2 linked regions of the Homo sapiens genome follow. The protein of the gene in region 1 purifies or fractionates together with the protein of each later gene. This does not show direct contact. Each region holds a gene or a part of one and is shown on either strand. Other genes may lie near its edges.

What was found. Proteins that work in one complex are often made in the same cells at the same time.
Region 2: the proteins of DNAJA3 (region 1) and ATAD3A purify together in Homo sapiens (tandem affinity purification; one large-scale study listed by IntAct). This does not show direct contact.

What each region holds. Positions count from the first base shown.
Region 1 is NC_000016.10:4,442,868-4,446,367, forward strand, and holds part of DNAJA3 (dnaJ homolog subfamily A member 3, mitochondrial), read left to right. Parts: intron 1-149; coding exon 150-297; intron 298-1,796; coding exon 1,797-1,861; intron 1,862-3,500. UniProt on the Homo sapiens protein: Modulates apoptotic signal transduction or effector structures within the mitochondrial matrix. Affect cytochrome C release from the mitochondria and caspase 3 activation, but not caspase 8 activation.
Region 2 is NC_000001.11:1,522,162-1,525,661, forward strand, and holds part of ATAD3A (ATPase family AAA domain-containing protein 3A), read left to right. Parts: intron 1-582; coding exon 583-738; intron 739-1,349; coding exon 1,350-1,406; intron 1,407-1,677; coding exon 1,678-1,803; intron 1,804-2,111; coding exon 2,112-2,236; intron 2,237-3,078; coding exon 3,079-3,130; intron 3,131-3,500. UniProt on the Homo sapiens protein: Essential for mitochondrial network organization, mitochondrial metabolism and cell growth at organism and cellular level. May play an important role in mitochondrial protein synthesis. May also participate in mitochondrial DNA replication.

The DNA.
Region 1 (3,500 bases):
GCACCTGGGTTCCTAGGCAGTGTGTTTGAGTGCACATGCACATAAAAAACAAGCCTTAAAGAGACATTTTTCTTACGCACATTGTGGTCCCAGAACCACCCATCAGTTTACCTGCGTACTTAGGTTACCATTTTTCTTGTTTTTATCAGGAAACCATCAACACAGGCCCTTTTGTGATGCGTTCCACGTGTAGGAGATGTGGTGGCCGCGGCTCCATCATCATATCGCCCTGTGTGGTCTGCAGGGGAGCAGGACAAGCCAAGCAGAAAAAGCGAGTGATGATCCCTGTGCCTGCAGGTGGGTGCTTGGGCCCGCCATGTCCAGGAGCTTGGAGAGGGCAGACAGGGTTGAGGCTACCACACCGTGTGGAGAGGGTGGACAGGGCCGAGGCCACTGCACTGAGTGTGAGTGGGCTCTTGGTAGAAGTTATGGTTGAGGCCCTGGAGCCCCAGGCTGGAGGAGGAACTGGAGTCTCCTTGAATCTTTCTGTTTCTGCCAGTTATCCTTAAAATTTACACTTTGCATGTCACAATGGGGAGAAGAGACCTGACGTGCCTACTCTGCTTCTTCCTGGTGAGGGAGCAGCTTCCAACCCCCGGGCTCCTCTCCTCTCTCCCCTGTCTTAGTCACCGAAGCCATCATTGTCCCTGCTGCCACCCTATCTACATCAGCCCCACGGATCCCACCCCTCACTCCATGTCTACTGTTCCCTTGCCCAAAACTCACTTTCTGCTTTCTTTTTTCGGTTAACTTTATTCATCTTGGAGATCCCAGCTTGAGTATCCCTTCCCTAGCTAGCCTCACACCCTCCTCCCTGTTCTTTTTTTTTTCTTTTTTGAGACGGAGTCTCGCTCTGTCACCCAGGCTGGAGCGCAGTGGCCCGATCTCGGCCCACTGCAAGCTCTGCCTCCCAGGCTCATGCCATTCTCCTGCCTCAGCCTCCCAAGGAGCTGGGACTACAGGCACCTGCCACCACACCCAGCTAATTTTTTGTATTTTTAGTAGAGACGGGGTTTCATCGTGTTAGCCAGGATGGTCTCGATCTCCTGACCTCGTGATCCACCCGCCTCGGCTTCCCAAAGTGCTGAGATTATAGTCATGAGCCACCGCGCGTGGCCTGCTTTACTGTTGTTTAGATGTCTGTTTCTCTAGAGTTGTGAGCATTTCCATTGAAGAGCATGTCTCTGTTTGTAGTTATGCATTAGTGCTATCGTTTGGTTAACACCCATCACCCCAGTGAGACCATGAACTCCCTGAGGTACTGCCTAGACCAAGCCTGAGGCAGGTGCTCAGTCATCAGGTGTCTGTGTTGCATCTCTGGAAGGTTACCCATGTGCCTCTTAGATAATGACATTGTTCCTCGTTAATAAGAAACAGGAGTGGGGAAGAAGCTGTGGGTTACAAGTGGATCTTGGGTGGAAAGTGCTGTGGGAGGTCTCACAATAACTGCTCCCTTTCTTTTTTTTCTTTTTCTTTTCTTTTTTTTTTTTTTTTTAAGACGGAGTCTCGCTCTGTTGCCAGGCTGGCGTGTAGTGGAGTGATCTCGGCTCACTGCAACCTCCGCCTCCTGGGTTCAAGCGATTCTCTTTCCTCAGCCTCCTGAGTAGCTGGGACTACAGGCGTGTGCCACCACGCCCAGTTAATTTTTAGTAGAGACCAGGTTTCACCATGTTGGCCAGGATGGTCTCGATCTCTTGACGTCATGATCTGCCCGCCTCGGCCTCCCAAAGTGCTGGGATTACAGGCGTGAGCCACCGCGTCCTGCCTAACTTCTCCCTTTCTAATGTCCCTTGTAGGAGTCGAGGATGGCCAGACCGTGAGGATGCCTGTGGGAAAAAGGGAAATTTTCATTACGTTCAGGGTAGGTGCCCTGCCCCGCACAGCTTCTGTTGGGCCTTTCCTCTCTTCGGGTGGGTGTGGCTGAGGCTGCTCCCATGTAATCAAAGCTTCACAGGAACATGTCTCGCCATTCATGTTTCTGAGGGGCACAGTGGCCACCTAGATGTGGTTTTTAGCTGTTTGTTACCTTCAAGATTCTGTGCCTTGTGTGGAGAGAAGACAACTTCTTCAACATGCTAACAAGTTAGAAATACAGGTCACATAAAAATACAGGAAACATCTTGTGTTTTTATGATAAGATTGTTGATGAGGCAGTGAGTGTGAAAGTTACAATTTTACATACTGTATACAGGGGCAAACCTTGGTTTTCTGAGATGGTGGAAACATTAATGAAGACAATGCCTTCTACTGGCAATTGCCCTCCTATGTGTACACCTGAGAAAAACCCACACAAGCCTAGCAGGCGATAGGTACAAAGGGGTGCACAAGAGTCCTGTCCATGGTAGCAAGACACTGCCTTCCTCCAACAAGAGAATGGCTCAGTGAGCCGTGGTGGTCAGAGGCTGCTGCAGGGCAGTCGGAAGGAAAGAATGAGAGCTGAACTCAAGGGATGCTCCAGGCGTTGCAGGTACAGACAGCAGGGATGGAAGGCAGCTTGCCAGTGGCTGTAGGGCCTCAGAGACCATCTGTGTAAAGTTTTAAAACCTGTGAGATGGCATTATGTATTATTTAGGGACACGGAAATACATAGTAAGTAGAAGCTTGTAGGAATGATAAATGTTAAAGTCAGGGTTGTGGTTAGCTGAGGAGGGCAAGACTCACCGGTGTTTATGATGTTTTATTTTATTTTACTTTATTTTTTGAGGTGGGGTATTGCTTTGTTGCCTAGGATGAAATGCAGTGGGGCAGTCTTGGCTCACTGTAGCCTCAGACTCCCTGGGCTCAGGTGATCCTCCCACCTCAGCCTCCTGAGTAGCTGGGACTACAGGCACACGCCACCAGGCCCGGCTGACTTTTGTATCTTTAGTAAAGATGAGGTTTCACCATGTTGCCCAGGGTGGTCTCAAACCCCAGGGCTCAAATGATCCACCCACCTTGGCCTCCCAAAGTGCTGGGATTACAGGTATGAGCCACTGCGCCCGGCCTGTGATATTTTGTTACCTCCACTGGGTTGTGGGTATGACATGCTTGTTATATTATTTACTCTTCCCTTTTTTTTCTTTTTTTTTTCTGGAAAGAGAGTCTTGCTCTGTTGCCCAGTCTGGAGTGCAGTGGCATGATCTCAGCTCACTGCAACCTCCACCTCCCAGGTTCAAGCGATTCTCTTGCCTCAGCCTCCTGAGTAGCTGGGACTACAGGCATGCGCCACTACACCCAGGTAATTTTTGTATTTTTAGTAGAGATGGGGTTTCACCATGTTGGCAGGCTGGTCTCGAATTCCTGACCTCAGGTGATCCACCCACCTTAGCCTTCCAAAGTGCTGGGATTACAAGCGTGAGCCACCACGGCTGGCCTATACTTTCTAATAAAGTAAGATTTTTTTTTTTTTTTTTTTGAGGTGGAGTCTCGCTCTGTTGCTCAGGCTGGAGTGCAGTGGTGTGATCTCTGTTCAGTGCAAACTTCATCTCCCAGGTTCAAGTGGATCTTCTGCCTCAGCCTCC
Region 2 (3,500 bases), on another chromosome or scaffold:
CCCAAGTAGATGGGATTACAGGCATGTGCCACCATGGCCAGCTAATTTTTTGTATTTTTAGTAGAGACGGGGTTTCTCCATGTGGGTTAGGCTGGTCTTGAACTCTTGACCTCAGGTGATCCACCTGCCTCAGCCTCCCAAAGTGCTGGGATTACAGACCTGAGCTACTGTGCCCAGCCAGCCTAATTGATTTTTAAAACGAGTTAGAGATTTTGGGTTAGTCTTGTTTTCCAGGAATAAAGTACCATTTTTAGTGGCCAAGAATGTACCAGAGGGTGTGGCCCTGTGACATCCGGCTGGGTCTGTCCAGGGCCCCGCTCAGCGACCGAGGCTTTCTAGGATTTATGCTGCCAGTTGCAGAGAAAATGGCCCTGAGTGAGGGCGCTGTGACTGCCCCACCTGCCTCCTGTAACCGCGTGGCTGTGGGATTCGGGGCCGGGAATTCGCGTTCCTGTGGGGCCAGTGCACGGCCCTGTGCTTCTCCCTCGGGCGGAGAGAGGGTGGGGGCAGCCCCGTGCGTCTCCTGCTCTAAGAGGGAGGGACGGTGGGGGCCGGTGCGCCAGTGCGGTGTCTCTGCTGCAGGTGGCTGGGCTGACGCTGCTGGCTGTTGGGGTCTACTCAGCCAAGAATGCCACGCTTGTCGCCGGCCGCTTCATCGAGGCTCGGCTGGGGAAGCCGTCCCTAGTGAGGGAGACGTCCCGCATCACGGTGCTTGAGGCGCTGCGGCACCCCATCCAGGTAGCAGCGCAGGCCTGGCCCTCCCTGAGTGCAGTTCCTGGCTGAGTCCCTTCTGCCCCACGAGCACAGCCCACGCACACCCTCCCGTCCCTTCCCTTTCCCCGGATAACGGGCACCCGCACACTGCTTCACGGGTGGGTTTTCCTGTCTGGCGCTGTACCTTAGGGGTCTGCATCAGTGAGACCCTTCCCCTGTCTGCCTCGGTGTCCCCTGCTCAGGGCTCTTGATGGGGCCTGGGAGCACATCGGGGTCCTTGCAAGACCCGGGACTTGGGTGTGCGGCCGTCTATCAGGGAAGCTGCTACAGGCCACGGCGTCTGGTGGCCTCCCTGGGGAGCCGCGCCGCTCGCCGCCCCCGAGGTGCCTGCTCTCCACAGGTCACTGGGTAGGTGGTTAAGAAAATAAAAGCCAATAAGGAACCGGAAAATGCCCCTAATCCCAGCAATAGCCGCCTGGTCTCCGGGCGGGGCAGGGTTCCAGCTCCGGGCCGGTCCTGGCTGTGCTTTGGGGCAGCTCCGTTTCTGCGTGTTACCGAGCGTGTGTGTGCGCGTTGGTGGCTGTTCCGTGGCTGTGGCAGGTGACCCGATGGCGCTTCCCCTTCCCCTCCGGCAGGTCAGCCGGCGGCTCCTCAGTCGACCCCAGGACGCGCTGGAGGGTGTTGTGCTCAGTGTAAGTCGGTGTGCCTGGGACCGGGGAGGCGCAGGGAGGGGACCCTGGAGCTGGGCCGGGCTGTGGCCCTTGCTGGCGCTCGTGGTGGCACCCAGGAGCTTTTGGGTCCTGAGATGCGACTGCTTGGACCGTGCTGGGGATAGATAGGCTGCCCCTGAGGTGGGAGGCTTCCCGAGGAGCCGAGTCTGCACCCAGGCATTCCCGCAGCCCCTTCCCCTGAGGCTTCCATGGGTGCACAGTGTCTCCTCCAAACCCCCGTCTTCCCCGGCAGCCCAGCCTGGAAGCACGGGTGCGCGACATCGCCATAGCAACAAGGAACACCAAGAAGAACCGCAGCCTGTACAGGAACATCCTGATGTACGGGCCACCAGGCACCGGGAAGACGCTGTTTGCCAAGGTGAGAGCGCCTGGCTGAACAGGTGGGCCAGGGGCCGCTGGGGTCTCACCTGCCTGCAGGTGTCTGGGGGGCTCAGCTGCCTGGGGAATGGACCCCCCTTAGGCCTTTGCCCACCCTCGTGTAGGCTCAGGGTGCTGGTGTGGGCAGCAGCGCCTCCCATCTTCCAGGCGGGGGACGTCTCCTGTCTGGCAGGCTGTGGCTTCCAGGCAGGGACGCTGGGCAGAGCCTCCACACTCCGGGTGGAGTGTGCAGGCTTTGCAGAGGCGGAGGGAACATCTGCTCTGTCTCCCCTCACTCTTCCTGTCCAGAAACTCGCCCTGCACTCAGGCATGGACTACGCCATCATGACAGGCGGGGACGTGGCCCCCATGGGGCGGGAAGGCGTGACCGCCATGCACAAGCTCTTTGACTGGGCCAATACCAGCCGGCGCGGGTGAGACGTCCCCACAGCATGCACCAGGCCCTTGGCTGCGGCCCAGCAGGCTGCCTTCTGGGAAGGGGGTCCAGGTGTCTCTTGGGGACCCTGTCTTTCTGCAGCTCTGTCCTTGTGGCCACGCAGGAGGCCCAGTGGAGGGTCCCTCGGAGGGAAAGTCCCCTGAGTGTGGACCCTGGTGGACACGAGGCCCCCAGCGTGTGGAGGCTGCCAGTGGGATACTTGGCTCAGGGCAGAAGGGAGGTGGGTGGGTGCAGGGGGAGAGGAGTCTTCACAGCTGCAGGGGAGGCTCCTCCACAGCCGCCCTCCCCCCAACACGCCTGCAGGTGGGCGTGGGCACTGGTTGCCTTTTCTAGAACCATTTGAAAGTTAGCTGAAGACAGCATGGCACACTCCCTTCAATAGGTCCCACAGTGACCCCGCGCAGGGCACAGCCCGGGCACCCTTGTGGCCTCGGCTGTCCTCGTTGGAACCACGATGCTCATGGTTGGCACCCTCCCCTCTGGCCTTTGACCTTTCACTTTAGAAGACCTGTCCCTGTCGTGGACTCTAAGCGGCCACCAGTGCTGCACTGGGCCGGGTGGGGGTGAAGCCTGTGGGGCGGAGTTCGTCGCCCCCGTGTGTGGTTGGTTTCCCACGGCCTTCTGAGGCTGGGCCGTGGTCAGCTGCCCAGAGGCCAGGCTGATCGGCTTCTGTCGAGTCCAGGACTTAGGGCTGCTGATGGGGCAGAGCCTGACCCCGTGGGGATCTGCCTGCTTGGCCTGCTCCTGCCGCGGCCGGACGCTGCTGTGGGCTGCTCCTGGTGTCACTCTCGCCCTGCTTGGCCTCCCTCTCGTTCACAGCCTCCTGCTCTTTGTGGATGAAGCGGACGCCTTCCTTCGGAAGCGAGCCACCGTGAGTGTCACTAAGCCTCTGGCCACAATGGGGTGGTGGGGTGGGCACAGCCGTCTGCCTGGGCCAGGCTGCAGCCCTCTGTTCAGTTTCTTTTTCTCTGTAAGCTTTGTGTGAAAAACAGCTTTTTTTTTTTTTTTTTTTGAGAAGAAATCTCGCTCTATCACCCAGGCTGGAGTGCAATGGCCCCATCTCGGCTCACTGCAAGCTCCACCTCCCAGGTTCACGCCATTCTCCCGCCTCAGCCTCCCAAGTAGCTGGGACTACAGGCTCCCGCCACCACACCTGGCTAATTTTTTGTGTTTTTAGCAGAGACGGGGTTTCACCGTGTTAGCCAGGATGGTCTCGATCTCCTGACCTCGTGATCCTCCCG